Linked DNA regions of Homo sapiens: region 2 is linked to region 1. The links come from fine-mapping of genetic effects on gene expression. A gene starts in region 1. The other region holds a variant in brackets. All regions are shown on one strand. Distances are between the middles of the regions. Region 1 holds the start of CTSC (cathepsin C). Region 2 overlaps LOC101929174 (a long non-coding RNA gene).

Evidence for each region. PIP is the estimated chance that this variant, and not a neighbour inherited with it, causes the effect. A credible set is the group of variants that fine-mapping cannot tell apart.
Region 2: its variant is the best candidate, but not a certain one, in a credible set for the expression of CTSC in whole blood (INTERVAL, PIP 0.51).

What each region holds. Positions count from the first base shown.
Region 1 is chr11:88,335,160-88,340,543 of GRCh38, forward strand. CTSC (cathepsin C) reads right to left here and starts at 2,577. Exons shown (of 7, transcript NM_001814.6): 1 at 2,342-2,577. The coding sequence starts at 2,513. It overlaps LOC101929174 (a long non-coding RNA gene), which reads left to right and starts at 2,725. Exons shown (of 5, transcript NR_188511.1): 1 at 2,725-2,897. RefSeq lists an enhancer at 2,293-2,572.
Region 2 is chr11:88,373,337-88,378,720 of GRCh38, forward strand. The region is part of intron 2 of LOC101929174 (a long non-coding RNA gene); the gene reads left to right. Among named protein-coding and RNA genes, the nearest start is that of CTSC, 38 kb to the left of the region's middle. The variant GT/G (reference allele first, on the strand shown) is at 3,184.

The sequences.
Region 1 (5,384 bases):
TTTAATTGTGCTGCTTTCCTTTCATGCTACCCAGTTTGAGCACAGTCTGCCTAGTGAAGAAACCAGAGGCTCCATCTTGTTGCCTCAAACAGTTCCTGCTCCGAGGCAAGACTGTGAAGTTAGGCTCTAAAAATTTGAGATAATGCAAGCAGAAGCAGTGGCTCACGCCTGTAATCCTAGCACTTTGCGGGGCTGAGGTCAGAACTTCAAGACTAGTTTGGGCAACATAGTGAGACCCTGTCTCTACAAAAATAATTTTTAAAAATTCGCTGGTTATGGTGGTGCATTGCCTGTAGTCCCAGCTATTTGAGCGGCTGAAGCTGAGGTGGAAGGATTGCTTGAGCCCAGGAGTTGGAGGCTGCAGTGAGCTATGATTGCACAACTGCATTCCAACCTGGGCAACACAGTGAGACCTTGTCTCAAAAAAGAGAGATATGCTATGCAGCCCAGCAGGCAGGGAGACCCCCAAAACTACAGTACCTTTCCAGAGCATCCCAACACTGAAGAAATTTTTCCACTGAACAAAAGGAGAAATGGGGAATGTTGAAAATTACAGGCTTCCAGAAACGGAGAAAAGGCAAAATGCTAGTCAAAAGTGGGAAATGCAAGAATAAAAGGTATGACAACAAAAAGATAAATAAACAGACTATCAGATCCTAAGGAAGACAATGTGCTAAGCCCAGGAGAAGACACAAAATGATCTATTCGGAGAAGAAATGGGGTACCTTTCTCCTCAAAGGCTCTACAGTTTAGAACCTCATAATCTGAATCCTTCCAAAGTTTATTCAGCAAACTAGAGGTCTGTATCCTATAAAACCAATTAGTGCTGATAGGAATGATACGTTTAACCTTCATAGATGAGGGCTCAGACCTGTGGGTGCCTTTAATTACTGAATTAAGGCCAAAGGTAATTTTATAGGCAGAGCCTTCCTGAAAATGATTCAGCTGTGTCCATCTGGAGAGTTGTGTATTTTAAAGTTTTTCCATGTTTGAGAGTAATGCTCTGACATGGGAGATTGCATGTGACAGGGCAGTGCAAATCCTGATCTCTTTCTGCCCCAACCTTCAAACTCAAATTTAAAAAAAAAAAAAAAAAAAAGGCCAGGCGTGGTGACTCCCGCCTGTAATCCCAGTACTTTGGGAGGCCGAGGCGGGCGGATCACGAGGTCAGGAGATGGAGACCATCCTGGCTAACACAGTGAAACCCGTCTCTACTAAAAATACAAAATATTAGCCGGGCGTGGTGGCATGTGCCCGTAATCCTAGCTACTCGGGAGACTGAGGCAGGAGAATCGCTTAAACCCGGGAGGCGGAGGTTGCAGTGAGCCGAGATCCCGCCACTGAACTACAGCCTGGGTGACAGAGCAAGACTCCATTCTCAAAAAAAAAAAAAAAAAAGTTACAATGTTCAGGATTATGAAATGCTATACAGTCAGTTAAAAAGGTATTTCTTTAGTAACAAATGACTTAATCTTTGTTCTGTTGACAAGAAAATTATAGCTGATTTTTTACTGACTCTGCAGAAGTCACAGGCTGTAAGAGGGTTTGGGTAGACCACAGTGTGACTCTTCTAACTAGTGATTGTCTTTTTTCCACCCCACCCCCTTCACTAGGTTCTTTGTTCTAGGGGTAACCATGTTATCTGAAGGCATATGGAATATCTCCAGTATGTTCAAACACTAGGTATTTATTGAGAGCCTTCCATGAGCCAAACATTGTGCAGACTCTGGGCATTTCTAATTACTAGGTTCAGAGTTAAGTTTTCTTTGTTATTAATTTTTTAAAAAATTTTTACCTCCTTGCAATGCATGAAACAATGCAGAGTGGTACTAGCCGTTTTCTAGTACTCATCAACACCCGCTCAAACCAAAATCGCTGGGCAGAAAGTCCCTTTCCCACCATCTAACAAAAAGAGAAAACTTCATGCTATATCCTCGAGAGTCTCTGAGCTCATCTATCTTCACTAGTAAAATAGTAATAAAAAATAAAAATAAATTTTAAAAATAACGCTACCAGATCGGACTGGAGAACCAAACGATTGCAGTTCCCAAGTCTCTCTCAAAGCAAACAAAATTAAGCGGGAGGAATAAAAAAGTTCTTGATCAAAGTGTTGAGTCCCCAAGATAACCAAGAAAGTGTGGAGTTAGAAGTTCTCAGCAGATGAACTTTAACTTCGCGAGCCTGGCGGGGAAGAAGGTCCCCAAGGGTCCCCGAATCCAGTCAAGATGCTCTGGCCACCCACAAGCGTCTGCCTGGGGGGAAGCGGTAGTTGGCGTGGCGCTGCGTTAGGGGCTCAAGGGCAGAAAGGACGACCCGGAGGACTGCCGAGCCGGCGGCTTACCCATAACCGAGCAGTTGACATCGCGCTGGGAACCGCTGGAGCCCACCTGGAAGACCCAGGTGCCCAGCAGGTCAAGATAGGTGCAGTTGGCAGGTGTGTCGCAGCGCACGGCGCCGTCGCCGGAGAGAAGCAGCAGGAGGGCGGCGAGCAGCAAGGAGGGCCCAGCACCCATGCTGCAGGGAGCTGAGAAAAGAGGTGAAGAATTACCAGGAAGCCGAGCGCTGCGGGCTAGCGGTGAGTCCACCACGAGGCGCGCGCCTTGAAATAGCTACGCCGGCCCGGAAACCCGTGGGCGGGGTCACTGAGCAGCAGGGGATTGGGGGTTGGGCGCCAGGCGCGTGCGCGTCTCTGAAACGGGGACTTGGGAGCGCGCGCTGCCCCTCACTTGGCTGCAACTGGACCCAGAACTAGGGAAGAGGCCAGGGACAGATTTTTTTTTTTTATTTTTATTTTTTTTGCCGAGGGACGTTTCAAAATTTTGCACGGCCAGGGTGACAAAAAGAGGATTTAAGAGCCACAAGCGGTCCGCACATGACCCAGACTTCGTTCCTGTGCGGTAACGTAGGGAGAGAAGGAAAGGGTGTGGGGGGAATAAGGGAGTGGGTCAGGTGAAAGAGCGCGACAGAGGGAGAGATCTAGCAAGTGGAGTTCTGTTTTACTTGCTATTCTTCCCCTTTAGTCTTTTTTCTCAGGTCCACTTGCCTCATAACCAACTTCTTGTTTTTTCCTCTGAAAAACTTCGCTAGCTAACATCAACTATTCCAGCTGTTTGAGAACTTATCTTCCTTCCGTTTTCCAACTCTTCCTACTTTTTTATGTGCTTGATTTTGTTTTGTTTCCTGGTAAATGCTGTTTGCCTGTTTGCATTCAGCAGAATTCAGTTTTTGTGCAAACCTGCAGTTTTGATGTATTAGCGTTGTGGGGGTTTTCCCTCTGGCACGCACACACATGGCGCTCTCAGAGATGATATTGCTCAACCCCTTTTATGTTACAGAGGAAAAGCAAGAGGCCCAGAGAGAGGAAGCGGCTTGCCCAGGGTGAGAAGGGTGAGGAAGGAAGCTAGCCAATGGGAGAAGGCTGGTCTTATGAACCGTTCTAGTGTGTCAGTCTGATCGCCAAAAATTATTAGGTGGCACTATTTCCAGGTGCCTCCTTGCTCAGTTTAAGTATCACCCTTTTCCGTAAGAGCCTCCCGTTCTTTCCTGGCTTTTGTTGGTAATTGGGGCTCCTTTCTCCCACTGAGCCTACTAGGTGTCAGGCCCTGTGGACACAGTGATGAACAAGACAGACCTGATGTGTCCCCGTTTTCTTTGGGATATGAATTTTTGCCCCCTTTGCACTGGTCACAAATCAATATTCATATGTCCATTTTTTTTCCACCAGATTATAAACATTCAAAGAGAGCAGGTCCAAATTATTCACTTATATCTCCCTAGATTCTGGTTTATTCAGAAAGTGTCCTTGAGTGTTAAAATAAGTGTACTTAATATTCTTATCTTGGTTGCCAAGCTTGAAAGCCAGTTTCAATGAGGCAAAAGGAGTTGTCCTTGAAAGTTCAGAGGTGAAAATACTCTTCAATGGGGGCACAAATTTCCAAAGCCTGGGGCGGGGTTGGTGGCGGGGGGTTGGGGAACACCTTGCTTTTAGGTTTTATATACCTTCTTAGAATTGAAAGCTGACATTGTATAATTAAGCTAACACACTATTTATTTAAAGATACCCTGACAGATTAAGCTTCCCTTCCTGAATCTCTAGGAAGGTGTGTTACTGATTGTTAAAACATTAAATTTGTATTAGGTCATCAATATTGAAGAGCCAGTTTAGGTGGAAATTTCTTTGATGAATGTAATCAAAGCAACACACTTAATTGTAAAGAAAGTTTAAAACAGTCTTTATTCAATGATTGAATAATAGAAAAAGATCTTGTGGACCTCTTAGTCTAATGGATTCATTTTAAAATTGGGAAATGGAGATTCAGAGAGTTAAATCACTTGCTGAATGTCATATTGCCACTTAGTAAGATTTAAGAATGAACCTCAGGCACATTGATTTTCAGTTTAGTTTATTTCTACTAATCTAATAATTCCCATACTGTTCTCTCTCAAAAATAACTACTAACTCTCCATTCCACGCACACACAAAAAATTGATTCTCAAACTGATCAGACCCCAAATCCTTTACTTTCTGAAATGAAATTAATATATAAACTGCTTACACACTTAATAAAAAGAAATGTAATGCCAAATGTAATATAAAGAAGAAATCAGATATTTTAAATATATTTCTAGTATAATAAGTTATATCCCATCATGTAAAATGTTCAAGTATGACTGTGTTGGAAAACATAATGAGGCACTCAGATACTTGCTCTTCACACTTCTGTAACCACCCAATGGATTCACCTGGCCTGCTGCCTAGACAGAGCCAATTTATCAAGACAGGGGAATTGCAATGGAGGAAGAGTAATTCATACAGAGCCGGCTGTGGGGGAGACGGGAGTTTTATTATCACTCAAATCAGTCTCCCCGAGCATTCAGGGATCAGAGTTTTCAAAGATAATTTGGTGGGTAGGGGCTTGGGAAGTGGGGAGTGCTGATTGGTTAGGTTGGAGATGGAATCATAGGGGGTCTAAGTGAGTTTTTCTTGCTATCTTCTGTTCCTGGGTGGGATGGCAGATATGGTTGAGCCAGATTGCTGGTCTCAGTGGTGTCAGCTGATCTATGGAGTGCAGGGTCTGTAAAATATCTCAAGCACTGATCTTAGATTTTACAATAGAGATGTTATCCCCAGAAGCAACTTGGAGGGTGGGAGGGTGCAGACTCTTGGAGCCAGAGGCCACATGACCCCTAAACTGTAATTTCTAATCTTGTAGCTAATTTGTTAGTCCTGCGAAGGCAGACTGGTCCCCAGGCAAGAAGGGAGTCTTTTTGGGAAAGGGCTATTATCAATTTTGTTTCAGAGTCAAACCATGAACTGAATTACTTCCCAAAGTTTGTTCCACCTATGCCCAGGAATGAAAAAGGACAGCTTAAAGATTAGAAGC
Region 2 (5,384 bases), 38 kb after region 1:
AAATTACCACTCACTTCTCTGGATTCATGTCTCAAATAAAACAAATTACTAAGCCACTGAGAAAGAGGCAACAACCCCTCCAACATTAAGGGCCAGAAAAAGGTCCTCTGCTTATATGAAAGTGATAACATAAAAGGTAGGAAAACCTTCTTTCTCCAGGACCCAGAAAAAGACCCATTCCTTCTGGGAGAAGGGTAGAATTAAAATATCTCTACCTCTTGGAAATTTGAAAGAAAACTTTTGGGCCCAGGTTCCTGGACTGATACAAAGCAGAGGTCTGCTACAACTGGAGTATGGGCAGGATCCAGGGGGAAAAGGGGAGCAGGAATGCTGAAAAGCCAAAGCTTCAAGGCCCGGGTGTATAGGATCTGCCTAAGACTGAGACTGGGTCATTAGAGCCAAGAATCTCATCTTCTCTCCAAGAGCTTCAAACTGAGTAACCAGCAATAATAGTCTACCAACTGGGACCAGGACAAAGGATGGTAAGAGATTCTCTCTGTGGTAGAGAATGGCTGAAAGCAGGGGATGGATCAGCAATACTGAAAAAAACGTTCTGGTACCCAAGGAACCACTCTAAGCACAATGTACATATTCTATCACTGGAGGAATTGGAAGTGTGTGGTACACTTCAGGTAACAATAGCAAAAACAATTACCAAATCTAGTCTAACTACTAACTAGATTGACTCAACTCAGAAGTAGAGGTACACACATTTCCAAGAGTAAATACTATTTACTTTTGTATCTGCTGTTTTTCCACATACAATTACCAGTATTTAGTAACAATTATGTTCTGTACCCACAAAAGCAAGAAAGAATGACCCCATTGTCAAGAATAAGAAGCAAGAATCCCAGCACTCTGGGAGGCCAAGGCGGGCGGATCATGAGGTCCGGAGATCAAGACCATCTTGGCTAACATGGTGAAACCCCGTCTCTACTAAAAAATACAAAAAATTAGCCGGGCGTGGTGGCAGGTGCCTGTAGTCCCAGCTACTCGGGAGGCTGAGGCAAGAGAATGGTGTGAACCTGGGAGGCGGAGCTTGCAGTGAGCCAATATAGCACCACTGTACTCCAGCCTGGGTGACAGAGTGAGACTCCATCTCAAAAAACAAACAAACAAACAAACAAAAAAAAAAAAAAGAAGCAAGAAAAATCAGATTCAGAGTTGAGTCTGATAGCTGAAACTATAGTTGAAACTCTCCGACTGGAACATTTAAATAACTATGATTAATATAATAAAGGACCTAAAGAAAAAGGAGAATGACATGCACAAAGAGATGAATTTCAGCATAGAGATAGAAACAATAAATATAATCAAGTGGAATTGCTAGAAATTAAAAAAAGATAAGGGAAATAACATTGAATATTTATAATCAGACTGCATGCAGCTGAGAAAAAAAGTAAACTGGAAGATGTCCATAGAAATTATTCAAACTGAAACATAAAAATAAAAAAGATTGATAAGGCCAGTATACAAAAATGCATGGTAATTTTACATACTAGCAAGGATAATTTAGAAATTATTATTATTTTCCTTTTGTTATGGGAGATGAGATGCTATTTCTTTGAAGGCCCCTTCTCTTCTTTAGCTCTTGATTCCACTCTTTTATATTTTCACGAATCCTCTAATCTTCGTGTGTTTCTGTCTCTCTCATCAGCTATTTTACTCTTTATTAAATTATTTGCTTTATCATTTAGACTCTCTAGTAGTTATATAAAAAGAAGCACAAATAAACCTCTTTGACTCCCTGTCTCTCCGCCACCTGCCACCCACCTCACTCCCTCCTCAACATACACCTACCCTGGTCTTTGTTCCCATTACTACCCTCAATCAGCTCTAGTCAAGAGAACAAGTATAGTGGTTACTTCTCTACCATTGACTTAGCCTATTAAGAACTCTTGACCAGCAGTCACTCCTGCTTTCTTGAAACATTTATTTATTCTGCCTTCCTTAACACCGCACATTTCTTTTTCTGCCTCACTGAGACCTCATTCTGTCTCCTTTTCTGGCTTAAATTATCGTATTCAATGTCTAACTGTTGATGTACTTTAGGGTTGAGTCTCAGATTCTTTCTGTTGCCTTCTTACATTTTTTCCTATAGAAAAGATCCTCCAGTAATAGGGTTTTAAGTACTACTTGTATGCTGATGTCTTCCAAATTTCCATCTGGACATCTTTTGTGAGCTCCAGCCTTGCATACACAACTAAATTCATGACATTTTCACTTTGAATATCAATAGGCATTTCAAATTTATCATTTCCAAAAAAGAACTGTTAACTCTCATCCACCTTCAGCAAATCTATTTCTCCCATAAACTCCCTCATCTCAGTAGAAGATACCATTATCTGCTCAGTTGCTCAAGCCAAAAACTTAGGAGTTGTTTTTGATTGCTTTCTTCTGCTCACTTCCCATGCCCAATGCAGCAGCAAGTGACATCATTTGTACCTCTCAAGTATATTCTGAATCTTTCCTTTTGCAGCATGTCTATGTGCATCCAAGCCATTTGGATTATCATATTAGCATCCTAACTGGTCTTTGTGCTTCAACTCCTGCTTTTCTAAACTCCATCCTCACAGAGCAGCCAATGTACTTTTAAATATATATATATGTGTGTGTGTTATATATATGTGTGCGTGTATAGGTATATATGTATTATATATATGTGTGTGTGTATATGTATATATATACACATATAATACACATACACATATATATATACACATACATATATTTTACATATATATATATATTTCCTACCGTGGTCTATATGGCTTCTGACCACCTCTCTGATCATAACTTCTTTCACTTTTCCTCTTACTCACTGTTTTTCAACAACACTGTGTTTTTTTCTTGAACAGAAAGAGAACTTGCTCCTGCTAGTTCCTTTTCATTCATATGGAAGCCTAAGCATTTTATCCCCAGGAGGGCTTCCCTGACTATTGTAGTTAGCATCCTACTGCTTCATTAATACAGTTCTAGCTATTCTCCATATTCTTATGAGGAGGTGAGTAGAGACAGCAAGATGGGCATGGGAAAAAAGCTAACAAAATATTGTCTCAGATTGAGACTAGCTTCATTCTAATTTCACAGAATCTCTGGAGAAAAGTCTGCTACAGTGTAAATATCCCCTTGGAGTAAGGCAGTGGCCTTTGGTACTCCTCCATCAGTCATTTTTTTTTTTGG[GT/G]TTTTTTTTTTTTTTGCCAAGGTCCAAGGGATGGACAGTGAGGTTAGCTGACCTCCTGAGCAACGAGGCTGCCATTGACCAAGGACAGTTCTTTACAGAAGGGAGAAACTGTGGGTGGTAGACAACACTGCTACTTCCAGCAACTGGAGGGGTCAGGGCAGTGGGTAGCAAAGAGAATATTGGCAGGACATCAACAGCCTCTATTATACAATGTTCATCTTTGGGGTTTGTTCAGCTTTTTAAATATGTAGGTTTGTGTCTTTTGCCACATTTGGGACATTTTTAGCCATTATTTCTTTGAGTATTTTTTAGCCTATCTTTTTTTAACTTTTTTATTGTGGCCAACTTAGTCTAATATAGCTACCATTTTTTCCCCTCTTCTTTTGAACTGAATTAAATTTTAGGTGGAAAGATGGGTATAGGATTTGAATAACATAGTTTCAAAAATTCTTTTTAATTCTAAAATTTTATAATTTTGTAATTGTAACAATATCATCTAAGTTTATTCATGGTAATTAATCATAATACTGACACAGATTTTATTTCACTTTTCTAAGCATTTGATTTACATTATGATACATAGTCAAGTAGTGAGACTTGATTATGCTTTTCAGAATTCATTAGATCTGTAGAAATTATATCCAGGTCTGCAATCACACTGACCCACCCTCAATCATCTTGTTTACATTCTATTCTACCCTAGTCAACTCTAGCTGTAATAAGCCTACTGGAACTTTAACATCGCATCTTCTGCGATTGCTTTCCTTACCATTGTAAGCTAAAATTACTCCTCTCTTTACTCTAGAAAATGATAGTACTTAGCACATTACACAATGATGTCATTAATTTTGTATAGCTAAGGATGATCTCAGTGCCCAAGATTTTCTAGTAGTTAAATATTTTCTCATCTCAAACACATTCAGAGTTCCTTCTGACTTTTACAAGTCTTACCCCCATTAAACTCATTTAAATCTACAAAAAAACTGGAAAATAAAGACAAAATCTATTTATCTTCTCATTATTTTCCCTTTCATTTCTGTCAGCTCTGGAAATAAACTGGTTTTGCCTTTACATCTAATTTTTTTAATTTTATGCAGGCTGAAAAGGAATTTATTTGTTCAAGCAAATAATGTCATCAACTTATAATGAAAGAATGTATACTGTTTTCAACTGGCTGGAGATTGATATTCCTATTTAGAAAAACACTTACTATAGCATGACAATAAGATGTATGGAAAATAAAAGTCTAAATAAATTGCTTGGAACAAATAGACTTGGAACAAAAGCAAAGGTTGTTGGCTCAGATTGCTGGGCAATACATGAGACCAATGTTTCACAAACTCTGTGTTTCTCCAGCTGTTAATAGATTTCCCCTGAAATGAACAGTTAATTTCCTGGTCAAATACATTGGAGGAAATGCTGTATAGTGTGATTTAAAAGATAAATTAACCATTTAAAAATGTTCAGAAGTCCTACTGAAAAGAAATCCATTATTCTTAAACACTTATGCAAACATCTCTCAGTTCACTAATAATTTCAGATCAGCCAGGAAACTTTTGACTTGGACTATTATACAGTTATTCCCAAGTATATGTTCTCTTGTATTAGTTGATTCTGTCAGTCAGTGTTTGGTTGCAGAGTACTGACTCTACTGTAGATAATTCTAGGAGAAATAAATTATAAATGTGTGCTAAATGGCTAACAGAATTTGGGGAATAAATGAAATAACAGACTTTTAGGCAGAACTTCCAAAAATCACTTGGAAAACCACATAACAGAACTGTGTCTCTAAGGGTTTTTCTCTTTCCATCATAATCAGGAATCTGATTATTGAATTGAGAAGCTGCTGCTACAGAAAGTTCCATACCCTCTCTGTTTTGTTGTGACCCACACCAGCAAAATAGAGGTCTCACACCTGGCCTTTCTATGTACTTAAAACAATTTAAATTCAGATTTCACTCTTGTGCATCTGATTGGTGAAACATAAACATATCCAGAATCTCAGCTTCAAGGGAATCTGGATAATGTGATTTTCAGCTTTCCAGCCTCTGCTTCACAGTATCCTATACACCATAATCGTTTTGTCCCAACATATACTGTATTGCAAGATGCTAAGGTTTCTGATGATGCAATGGGATGAAATAATAATTCTAAAAATTCTGGCCAGGAATGATGGCTCACGCCTGTAATCCCAGTACTT